Linked DNA regions of Homo sapiens. The protein of the gene in region 3 interacts with the protein of the main gene of each other region in a pairwise test. Each region holds a gene or a part of one and is shown on either strand. Other genes may lie near its edges.

Region 1 (4,155 bases), on a different chromosome or scaffold from region 3:
TCACATGAATAGTGTCTAAAGGTACAGATTTTTAAAGACAAATAGAAAAATAACCTACACTATTCGGGTAATGGGTACACTAAAAGCCCAGACTTTGACACTACACAATATATCCACATAACAAAACTGCACTTGTACACTCTAAATCTATAAAAAAAATTTTAAAAACAAATAGAAAAATAACCTACCAATTATTCTAGGCCTACTAAAGCAAAGCTCCTTCCTTGGGGGTATTAAGCTACCAGAATATTAAATTGACATGATTTTATGATTTTGATTATTATATTTATTATTGTTGCTGTTATAAAGGTGCTGCAAGGAAAAATTTATGCATTTTATGATGATTTGATATCATAAATCAGAACAAGCTTTGGACATGTCAAAATAAATCTATTTTTTAGTACCAAATTATTTTTAAGGTATGAAAAATATTTCCTGAAAAAGAACACATCTCAAAAATAACAACACTTATTGAAGCGTTACTATTAAAACATGCCAGGCAATGAGCAAAGATCTCTTAAACATATTATTGTATTTAATTCTTACAGGAATTTCGTTAAGTAGGTCCCATTGTTATCTCTATTTTACAGGTGAGGAAACTGAGCCTTAGAGGGTTTAGAGAATTTGCCAAATGTGAGACAGCCACTAAGTGGCAGAGCCACGCCCAAACCCACACCCTCTGACCTGGCAATCTGCAGCACTCCGTTCCAGAAACGGGCATACCTGGCTCTACATACAGCAGTGCCTCAATAACATAGTTTCATTCAACGTTGGTGACAAAAAAATTCCTGGCCAGGGCCACTGTCTATGTGGAGTCTGCTCATTCTCCTCATGTCTGCGTGGGTTTTCTCTGGGCTTCGGTTTCCTTCACATCCCAAAGCTGTGCATATGTCTACATGGTCCCCGTCTGAGTGAGTGGGTGTGTCTGTGAAAGTGCACCCTGTGATGGGATAGCTTCCTGGACAGGGGAGAGGGGGGGGTTCCCACTCTGAACCAGGGAGACTCTGGCTACCCATGACCTTGAACTGTAATAATTGGGTAAATAATGATCTTGTTTTTACTAATCCTTCTTAACTGTATGTATAGATCCCATTTATTTCTATGTTTAATATTAGAAGTGTTGTGGTCTTTATTTAGAAGTTTGGTGATTTTTTTATGACCAGAAATATGCTGTAGGAACTTAACTCTTGTTTATATCAATTAGCCTGTGGTAAAATTGGTTTCCTTATACCTCGTTGTGCTTAAAGGTTCACAGTTTCCAAGAACGTATCAAGAATGTTAAGTGAGGACTTACTGTATTTATTTAAAGAGAATGCTTCCTATCTATTGGCTAGGGAAAAAAAAAAAGTCAAGAAAATTTAACAGCAACTCTATTCTTTTACATTCATACATTACCAAAGCTCTCTTTTGGCTATTTTTAATTCATAAAGATTTTGGCTGAATTATTTTCATTATTTCGAAACAAAAATTAAGTTCTTGCCTCGGCATTTTGCATTACAAATGCAAATGCATTACAAATGGTTAATACAAATAAATCAGAGTACTTAGGTAATATGTTTACATTTCCCTTTTTCAAATTACAGAGGAATTCACCTTTCTCTGTGACTCCTACGTCTATAACTGAACTGACACCTCCAGTTTTCCTCATCTGAATTAAAAATAATACTAAAAAAAGCACAAAATAAAAGTTTAGATTTGGCATAACTTTAGTAGTCTCTACAATTGTGGTCTTCTTATAATAAATTGAAGCATTTGGAAAGTGAGCATGTATTTCAGGAATAAAGAAATAAATACCAACATTTACTTCCAAAATTCTTGTGTGTGGGGGGGAACATTGTCTACAATTTATTTTTTCTGTTACTATCAAAAACATCATTCAACTTTTCAATTCAAGCAGTGGAAAAAATACTAACATTTCACCGACAAACAAAAATGTTTTGATGAACAAACCAGCAATAAAAGTGCACATGAGTATGTATATCATATTTTTCCTCCTTGTATTTAATTAACAAATGACCTTAAGATGATAACTCTCAAAATTTCAGGTTTATCCTCCCGATTAATTTGTGACATTCCTTGGAGGGAATTCAAAGGGAAGAAGAGAAAGATTTTAAGCTTCAGGTTATGGTAAGGAACAGAGACAAAATGCATTTAGCAAATAATAGGAAAGATCACATAAATAGTTCTGAATGAAGTTTAAAGAAAACGATTCCTTACTTCTAAAAAAATGCAATTCGTGAGGTTGGGAAAAGACACTCAAATTTCCCCGACTCCACCCTACTAGTCAACAATCAGTGCAGCAATCAAAAAATGCCCTTTCCTGAATGCCCAGAAGAATCTTAAGAAACTCACCTTCTGAACTCAGGGCGTCTCGATTCTACTTTTGTTGGGTATTGGCCTGCCTACTGGCTGCCCTCTTTCCTATTTCTCGGCCAGGCGCTCTGGGAAGTAGATACCGTACCTGTGGTCACTGCTGGCGACACTGAAGCTCGCCCCATGCGTTGCTGCTGGCCCTGAGCATCACTCGCCGTCCCACTTGTTCCTCCTCGTCGTCATCGCAGGTCTTACACACACACACACACACACACACACACACACACACACACACACACACGTTCACACCCTCGCGCGCGCACCTGCTGTTAAGAGGTACAGCCCCACCCCAGCAAAATCCTCGCTTCCTCTTCCCCGGGACGTAGCCCCAGAGGAGCGAATCTGGACCAAGCCCAAGACAGGCTGAAGCTACTGCTGCGCTCTCACCTCCGGCAGTGACAGCGAGCGCCGCCGCCGCTCTGCGCGGGGCCAGCCAGGCCCGCCGAGGGCAGCACAGGTGGAGCAAGGTTGCACCCCCGGGGGATCCCCGCCCACCGCCCGCGGCAGCTTCTGCAGGCTCGGGGAAAGCGCGCGCCAGTGATTCAGCGCCTTTCCGCCGCCGCGGTTACCACGGCGACGCGCGCGCACGCGCACACACGCCCTCAGGGATGTGGGGCGCGGCAGCCGCCCCTGCCCAGCTCCCCTGCTCAGCTCCCCTGCTCAGCTCCCCGGTTGCGCTCTAAGTACCCGCACCGGGGCGACACACTCCCACCCCGCAGGGGACCAAGCAAAAGTCTTTCGTGAACCTGAGCGGCCTTCATACCCTACCTGCTTTCCTTCACCAAGCCCTTCCCTGTCACCGTGGCCCTAAACAGTCTGGGGGATGAACACTCCTTCCAAATAAACACCCGGGCCAGGGTGGCTCAAGGGAGCCGTGGGTGCACTGCCTGGGTCAAACACCCTTCGCGAATGTGTCCCCCAGCTTGTCCCCAGCTTGTGTCACCCCAGCTACACAAGTTCCATTCTTCCAGTGGGAGTCTCTTTGGCCCCTACTCTGTAATTATCTTTCTATTTTGAGCAGGTGCTTTCTGACTGAGACTGGGAACCTGTGCTAGGAGGGGCTCCCATCACCTCCAGGCCTTGCAGGTTAACTGGATGCCCAGTATAGTTTGACATTTGCATCTTGAGGAACGTGATAATCTAAACCACAGAAAACTTGGGTGGAAGACTCTTGCATTTTTACTGTTTTAATAAAGATGCGAAAGCATCTAGGGATAATATCATGAGCAGAAAAGGTAGCCAGGGCATTCCTCGCACATCTCATTACTAGGAGGTATAAGTGCAGTGCTTAGGGCTGAGTCACACACTGTTGATGAATAAGCTTCTTGGCTACTCGTATTTACCGAAGAGCCTCAGACAAGTTACCTAATCTAGATAAACCTGTTTCCTCAATTATAAAATGAAGATAATAGCATTCATATAGGATGATTCTGGGAATCAAATAAGATAATGCACATTTAAAGAGTAAAAACCAGCTGGGTGCGGTGGCTCACGCCTGTAATCCTAGCACTTTGGCAGGCCGAGGCGGGCGGATCACGAGGTCAGGAGATCGAGACCATTCTGGCTAACACGGTGAAACCCCCGTCTCTACTAAAAATACAAAAAATTAACCGGGAGTGGTGGCCCGCGCCTGTAGTTCCAGCTACTTGAGAGGCTGAGGCAGGAGAATCGCTTGAATCCAGGAGGCGGAGGTTGCAGTGAGCCGAGATCGTGCCACTGCACTCCAGCCTGGGCGACAGAGCAAGACTCCGTCTCAAAATAAATAAATAAATAAATAAATAA
Region 2 (3,527 bases), on a different chromosome or scaffold from region 3:
CTTCCCAAACTCTGATGGCAACCTCAAGCTAGAAACTCCAGGATACCTCTGACTCCAACTTCAAGCTGGAAACTTTTCTTTTAAGAGAGGCCACTGGGGGAGTGAAGGAGCCTAATACAGGTTAGGGTGGTAGCTGAGATGCAGCTTCAGAAGGGATGGTAAAGAGAATAGAGAAAGGCCTGAACTTTATCTAAGGTGGGATAGAGAAGGCAGAGCTCCAGAGAGAGGTGGGGCTGGTGCAGGGGCAGGGGCAGACCCACCGAGGTATCCTGGAGAAGAAGTGCAGAGCATTGCAGGCCTGCTGCGAGGAGCTTGTGGGGATTCCAGGCCACAGAGTCAGCCCTGGATGGGGTGGAGCAAAGGCAGGTCAGTGGCTCCTCCTCCAGCTGCCCAACCAGAGCCCTTCCTCCTTTTCCAGGTCCCCAGCAAAGGGGCTTTGGTCTCACCCTCACCCCAGCATCAGGAAGAACTGCCATGTCTGACCTCCCAGCTCCAATCAATCCTCTCTCCAGTCCCCCTCCCCTCAGCCTCCTACCCCAGCCATGTTAAACTCCCTAGTCCATGATGATTCTCTGGACCAATGGTTTGAAGGGCGGGATTTGGGAAGAAGGGGACTGTATGCACCTCTGGATCCCATCCAGGAGATGCCTGTGTGTCTGTGACAGCAGGACGCTCCCACCCCAGGCAGCCTGTGGAGCAGGAGGAACAACGTGGGCCTTGGCCTTGGCTCAGCCCACCCCACCGCACCCCCAAGCCGAAGTCCCACTCACATCCACATGCAGCCATAGCCCATGACGCTGGCACACATCAGCAATTGCCTCCAGGGGGTCAAAGGCCCCTAGCACAGTGGTGCCAGAGGTGGCACTGACCAGGAACGGCACAGCACCCTGTTGCCAAAATGTAGAGGGAGAAAGATGTAAAGTCATCTCAAAAGCTACTCAGAGCCTGATGCTGGGCCCAGCTCTAAGCTCTTTGCATGCCTAAAATGGCCCATTTCAACCTCACAACAATGTGTTACTGTCCTTTTTAATGTGCAGCCAGGGACACTGAGATTCAAAGATCCAAGCAGAAGCTGCAGAGATGGACTTCGAACCTAGGTTTTCATTTCCAAAGCTCATACTCTCAAAGAACTTGAATGTTTTACTGGAAGATCCAATGCTATTGAAAAAAAATTGAGTCAGGCATAGTGGCTCACACCTATAATCTCGGCACTTCAGGAGGCCAAGGCAGGATTGCCTGAGGCCAGGAGTTCAAGACCAGCCTGGGCAAAATAGCAAGACCCCATCTCTAAAAAAATTTTTTTGTTTAATTAGCCAAGTGTAGTGGGCATGCCTGTAGTCCCAGCTACTCAGGAGGCTGAGATGGGAGGATTGCTTGAGCCCAGGAGTTTGAGGTTACAATGAGCTATGATTTTGCCACTGCACTCCAGCCTGGGCAACAGAATGAAAGCCTGCCTCAAAAAATATAAACAAATAGGCCAGGCACGGTGGCTCACACCTGTAATCCCAGCACTTTGAGAAGCCAAGGCAGGTGGATCACTTGAGGCCAGGAGTTCAAGACCAGCCTGGCCAACATGGCAAAACCCCGTCTCTATTAAAAAATACAGAAATTATCTGGGTGTGGTGGTGCACGCCTGTAATCCCAGCTACTTGGGAGGCGGAAGCCGAGGCAGAGGCATGAGAATCGCTTGAACCCGGGAGGCAGAGGTTGCACTGAGCCAAGATCACACCATTGTACTCCAGCCTGGGCAAAAGAGCAAGATTCTGTCTCAAAAATAAATAAATAGGCTGGGTACGGTGGCTCACACCTGTAATCCCAGCACTTTGGGAGGCCGACGCGGGTGGATCACGAGATCAGGAGTTCAAGACCAGCCTGGCCAAGATGGTGAAACCCTGTCTCTCCTAAAACTACAAAAATTAGCCAGGCACAGTGGCAGGCGCCTGTAATCCCAGCTACTCAGGAGGCTGAGGCAGGAGAATCACTTGAACCTGGGCAGCAGAGGTTGCAGTGAGCCAAGATTGTGCCACTGCACTCCAGTCTGGGTGACAAAGTGAAACTCTGTCTCTAAATAAATAAATAAATTTGAATAGTACAAAAGTTTATGCAGAAATTGAATTAGTAATTTTTAAAACTACTACAGCTGGATGTGGTAGCTCATGCCTGTAATCCCAGCACTTTGGGAGGCCAAGGCAGGAGAATTGCTTGAGCCTAGGAGTTCAAGACCAGCCTGGGCAACCTAGTGAGACCTCACCTCTACAAACGAAAAAAAAATACATAGGCTGGGCGTGGTGGCTTATGCCTGGAATCCCAGCACTTTGGGAGGCCGAGGCGGGCGGATCACCTGAGGTCCAGAGTTCGAGACTAGCCTGACCAACATGGAACAACCCTGTCTCTACTAAAAATACAAAATTAGCCAGGCATGGTGGCACATGCCTGTAATCCCAGCTACTCTGGAGGTTGAGGCAGGAGAATGGCTTAAACCCGGGAGGCGGAGGTTGCTGTGAGCCAAGATCACGCCATTGCACCTCAGCCTGGGCAACAAGAGCAAAACTCTGTCTCAAAAAAAAAAAAAAGAAAAAAAATAGACAGGTGTATAGGGGTGCACTCCTATAGTCCCAGCTACCTGGGAGGCTGAGGTGGGAGGATCACTTGAGCCTGGGAGATCAAGGCTGCAGTGAACCATGATTGCACCACTGCTCTACAGCCTGGTCAACAGAGTGAGGCCCTGTCTCCAAAAACAAACAAAAAAAATCTACCACAGTGGGAGTCTGAGGCAGGAGGATCACTTGAGCCCAGGTGGTCAAGGCTGCAGTGAGCCCTGATCGTGCCACTGCACTCCAGCCTCAGCAACAGAGCAAGACCCTGTCTCCATTTTTTTTAAGTTAAAAAGAAAAGAAAGGCCCAGGCAGAGATGGCTTTGCTGATGAATTCCATCAAACATTTAATGAAAAATTGGTAACAGATCACAAACTCTTCCAAAAGACAGAATATACAAAAATCAATTGTATCTCTATACACATTAGCAATGAACAATCTAAAAATGAAATTAAGAAAACAATTTCATTTACAAAAACACCAAAAAAGAATAAAATACTTAATCTATTTAACAAAAGAAGTATAAAGCATATACTCTGAAAACTACAAAACACTGTGGAAATTAAAGACCTAAATAAATGAAAATATGTTTCATGTTGATGAATGAACACAATTCCTATCAAAATCCCAGTTGCCCTCTTTGCAGAAATGGACAAGCTGATCTTAAATTCATATGGAAATTCAAGAAACCCAGACTAGCGAAAAACAATCTTGAAGAAAAGAACAAAGTTGGAGGACTCACACATCCTGATTTCAAAACATACTACAAAGCTACAGCTGAATCAAGACAATGTAGTCTACAGGATAGACATGTAGATCAGTGGAACAGAACTGAGAACCCAGAAATAACCCTCACATTTACAGTCAAGTGATTTACAACAAGGATGCCAAGACAATTTATTAAAGAAAGAATTGTCTTTTCAACAAATGGT
Region 3 (3,646 bases):
ACCCAGCCCAATCTCACGAGCAGGGCTGGGGGGTTTAAAAAGGGTGGAGCGGGTGGGGTTGGCTCACACGAAGGAGTACTGGTTGTTAATGGCCCTGGGGTGGCCCCCTTCCTCTCCATCACCCCCTAGTGGTGACTGCTGCAGCTGCACCATTGGGGGCACCCCCGCGTCCCCACCAGACCCAGCGCCCTGGGCCTCTGAGCCTGGGGCTATGGCCTCTTCCAATTCAACCACGGGGACCAGCTCAACCACGGGGACCAGCTCTTCCGGGACCCCTCCACCGCCCGCTTTCTCTTTCTCTTGCCTCTCTTTGGCTGCTGCGGCTGCTGCTGCCGCCACTTCTGGCGCCCTCGACGCCTCTTCTGCCCCAGGCTGTGGGGGATCTGTCCATGAAGGGGGTTCAGGGGGCTGGGGTGGGTCATGGGAGGTGGTCGGTTCTGGATAGGAATGGTAAGAAAACAGACTGATTGTGGAGGCAGGTGAGCTCCTGCCGTGGCCTCCCCTTCACTCAGCCCCCCAGGAGCGTGGCTGTCTCCCCACATCCCATCTCCTGAGCAACCCCCCATCCATGGAAGATGGATCATGGGCGGTGGTGAGAGGAGGACCACACTTACACACAGTCACTCGCTCCGAAGGGCATGAGGGTGCAGGAGGCATCGGGGTGGCATCCATCTCCCTCGCACACCCCCGCATGGCTCCCAGCCTGCTCCCGGCCTGGGGGGAGGGGCAACGTGGGGACAGATGGGACGGTGGGGCAGGGGAAAGGGAGAGATCAGACAGGGACATGAGACATTGAGGGAGGAGGGAAGGGGATCAGACCGAGTGTCCCCGGGAAGGGCAGGCCCAAGGCCAGGCTGCGACGGAGGGCAAAGACGAGGCCAGGATGGGTCCAGGAGACAGACAGACAATGGAACAGAGGATCCGATGGAATGGGGATGCGCCCGCCCACCTCTCAGCTGCCGCCCCGGCTCCGGCCAGGAGCCTTCTGCCTTCCTGTGTCCTATCAGCGCATTTCTTTCCCTTCCAAACCCCGAGGCACAACAGCCTCCTCTACCCTGCTCTCCCAAGCAAAGCTTCTCCTTGTGATAGTCCCCCCTCCCCGCCCCATCTTTCTGGCACACACACCTCACTTCTTGGGTGCACGGGCACCTCCTCCCCTGCAGACCTGCTCTGCTCACCCTGCTGTCGCTGGGAGGATGGGACATAGCTGACAAGGACAACATCACTGGAGCCTCCCGACTCCAAAGGGATGGGGTGCACCCGGAAGTGCTCGAGCATATCGAAAATGGACTGGAACCACAGGTGCTGGACCCGGCACTGACCCTCCTCGTTCAGCGACAAACGCAGGTGCTGAGGGCGGGATGGGGGAGGTGAGGTAGGAGGCAAAGGCCCTGCCAGGTACAAACCCCCTCCCCCGGCAGTGCTCCCCCACCCCACTGCCAACTATGCACAGAACAGAGCCTTTCCCACAGGGTGGCTCACCTTGGCCTTGCCCTGGAAGTTGAAGGTGAGGACGTATTCACCCCGCCTTGTCTCACTCTGGCGCACCAGGAAGACACCGTGGGAGCCAGTGCCGCCAGTCAGCACCAACTGTGCAGCCTTGAGCCGAGAGAGCATCCCGTGGAACCAAGGATACCCTGAGAGGGGCTGGTCCCCCTCACCGCCCTCTGGCTCCCCCTGGAACAGGAAGGACCCTTCAGGAAGGAGAGAGGGAGGGAAACCGGGGTGTCAGGGCAGCCTCCCCCATCCTGGGAGAAAAAAGCCTTGCCTTCCCCTCAAGGCGCCTGCTCCCCACATGCGTCCCCAACTCCCCTGGGCCAGCTCCCTCGGGATCCCAGGAGAGGTGGTCAGGAAGGTAGGCACCCAGGCCTGGAGACATGCACACTCACACCTCCGGTACCTGTGGCTGTTTCCGGAGTGTCCAAGGGAGGGTAGGGGGCTGAGAGGGGATGAACTGTCCCTGTTGGGGGTCCCTCTTCAATGGGGATGCGGGGGGGCAACTCTGGGGGAAGCAGTTCCATCGAGTCAAAATGGGAGGCGGCAATGGAGGCAGAGCTGGGGGAGATGGATGCCGAGGGGCGGTCTGAGAGGCCCCCATATGCCCCTGGAAAAAAAAAGGGCAAAGCTGAGAACCCAAGAAATTCCTCTTCTAAAGGACTGTCCTGGGCCCATCTCCTCACCAGCAGTCTACCCTGTGTGCAGTCGCTGGCCAAGATGCCAAACAGCTCTGTGGGTAGTGACCCCTGATGCTTTTACCAATGGCTCCTAACTGATGCTTCCTGCGCTGCTGAGGGACTGCAGAGTTATTGCAAGGAGGTTCTAAAGTCCCAATGTGTCTCCATCTTTTTCTGAATCAACAGCTGAAAGACTGTTGCAGAAACGGAGAGCAGAATGCCTTAAATATATATATACATGTTTTTGTAGAGAAGGGGTCTCGCTATATAATAGCCCAGGTTGGCCCTGAGTTCCTGGACTCAAGTGATCTGCCCACCTCAGCTCTGGGATTACAGGCGTGAGCCACCGTGCCCAGCTGCCTCAAATATTTTGACATTCAAAAGGAGTCCTGGGCCAGGCGCAGTGGCTCACACCTGTAATACCCGCACTTTGGGAGGTTGAGGCAGGAGGATCACTTGAGCTTAGGAGTTCGAGAGCAGCCTGGGCAACATGGTGAAACACCATCTCTACTAAAAATACAAAAATTAGCTGGACGTAGTGGTGCACACCTGTAATCCTAGCTACCTGGGAGGCTGAGGCAGAAGAATTGCTTGAACCCGGGAGGCAGAGGTTGCAGTGAGCCGAGATTGTTTCACTGCACTGCAGCCTGGGCGACAGAGCAAGCCTCTGTCTCAAAACACACACACACACACACACACACACACACACACACACGGAATTCTGGCTGCACACAGTGGCTCACGCCTGTAATCCCAGCCTTTTGGGAGGCTGAGGTGTGAGAATGACTTGAGCCCAGGAGTTCAAGACCAACTTGGGCAACATGGTGAGACCCCATCTCTTACAAAAAATAAAAAATTAGCTAGGTGTGGTGGTGGCACACGCCTGTGGTCCCAGCACCTTAAGCCGCTGACGCAGGAAGATGGCTTGAGCCAGGGAGGTCAAGGCTGCAGGAAGCTGTGACTGCACCACTGCACTCCAGCCTGGGAGACATAACAAGACCCTATCTCAAAAACAAAAACACAAACAATAATTTTTTAAAAATAAAAAAATTAAACACACAAACAAAAAAAAAAAGGTGTCCTTTGTTGAACTATAGGACAAAGCCCCTAACTCTTAAGAGGCATCAAAGATGCTCCTTCTATTACTCCCCCAACCCACACCAACTTGAGCTTTACCTTACCTTGTATTCATGTCTCTTCCACTTTAACCCAATTTCCCATCCAATTTGTCCCCATATCCTGGGCCCTCCCCGCAGGTCTCTGCTCTTGCCCTTCACGTCCCCAGGCATGTCCTCTCCTCTCCTCGGCGTCGCAGTCCCTGTCTCTCCCACCTTCCCCTGCTCTCTTCCTCCTGAGCTCCCAACGTGATTCCTGCTTGTGCTGCTCAGGGGACACTAAGCTTTCTATAGGGAGTGATGTCAACCCAGCTGAAAGCCTCTAGAGAACAAGGAGCTCATCTCAGGCATCCTAGC

The links.
Region 1: the proteins of SH2B1 (region 3) and KIAA0319 interact in a two-hybrid assay, tested with the Homo sapiens proteins (one study listed by BioGRID and IntAct).
Region 2: the proteins of SH2B1 (region 3) and CSAD interact in a two-hybrid assay, tested with the Homo sapiens proteins (one large-scale study listed by BioGRID and IntAct).

What each region holds. Positions count from the first base shown.
Region 1 is NC_000006.12:24,643,275-24,647,429, forward strand, and holds the start of KIAA0319 (dyslexia-associated protein KIAA0319 isoform a precursor), read right to left. Parts: upstream 2,918-4,155; 5' UTR 2,499-2,917; coding exon of another isoform or gene 2,462-2,498; exon of another isoform or gene 2,353-2,461; intron 1-2,352. UniProt on the Homo sapiens protein: Involved in neuronal migration during development of the cerebral neocortex. May function in a cell autonomous and a non-cell autonomous manner and play a role in appropriate adhesion between migrating neurons and radial glial fibers.
Region 2 is NC_000012.12:53,160,503-53,164,029, forward strand, and holds part of CSAD (cysteine sulfinic acid decarboxylase), read right to left. Parts: intron 888-3,527; coding exon 771-887; intron 690-770; coding exon 625-689; intron 343-624; coding exon 261-342; intron 1-260. UniProt on the Homo sapiens protein: Catalyzes the decarboxylation of L-aspartate, 3-sulfino-L-alanine (cysteine sulfinic acid), and L-cysteate to beta-alanine, hypotaurine and taurine, respectively. The preferred substrate is 3-sulfino-L-alanine.
Region 3 is NC_000016.10:28,870,238-28,873,883, reverse strand, and holds part of SH2B1 (SH2B adapter protein 1), read right to left. Parts: intron 2,105-3,646; coding exon 1,901-2,104; intron 1,695-1,900; coding exon 1,483-1,694; intron 1,351-1,482; coding exon 1,179-1,350; coding exon of another isoform or gene 1,126-1,178; intron 715-1,125; coding exon of another isoform or gene 615-714; intron 438-614; coding exon 64-437; 3' UTR 1-63. UniProt on the Homo sapiens protein: Adapter protein for several members of the tyrosine kinase receptor family.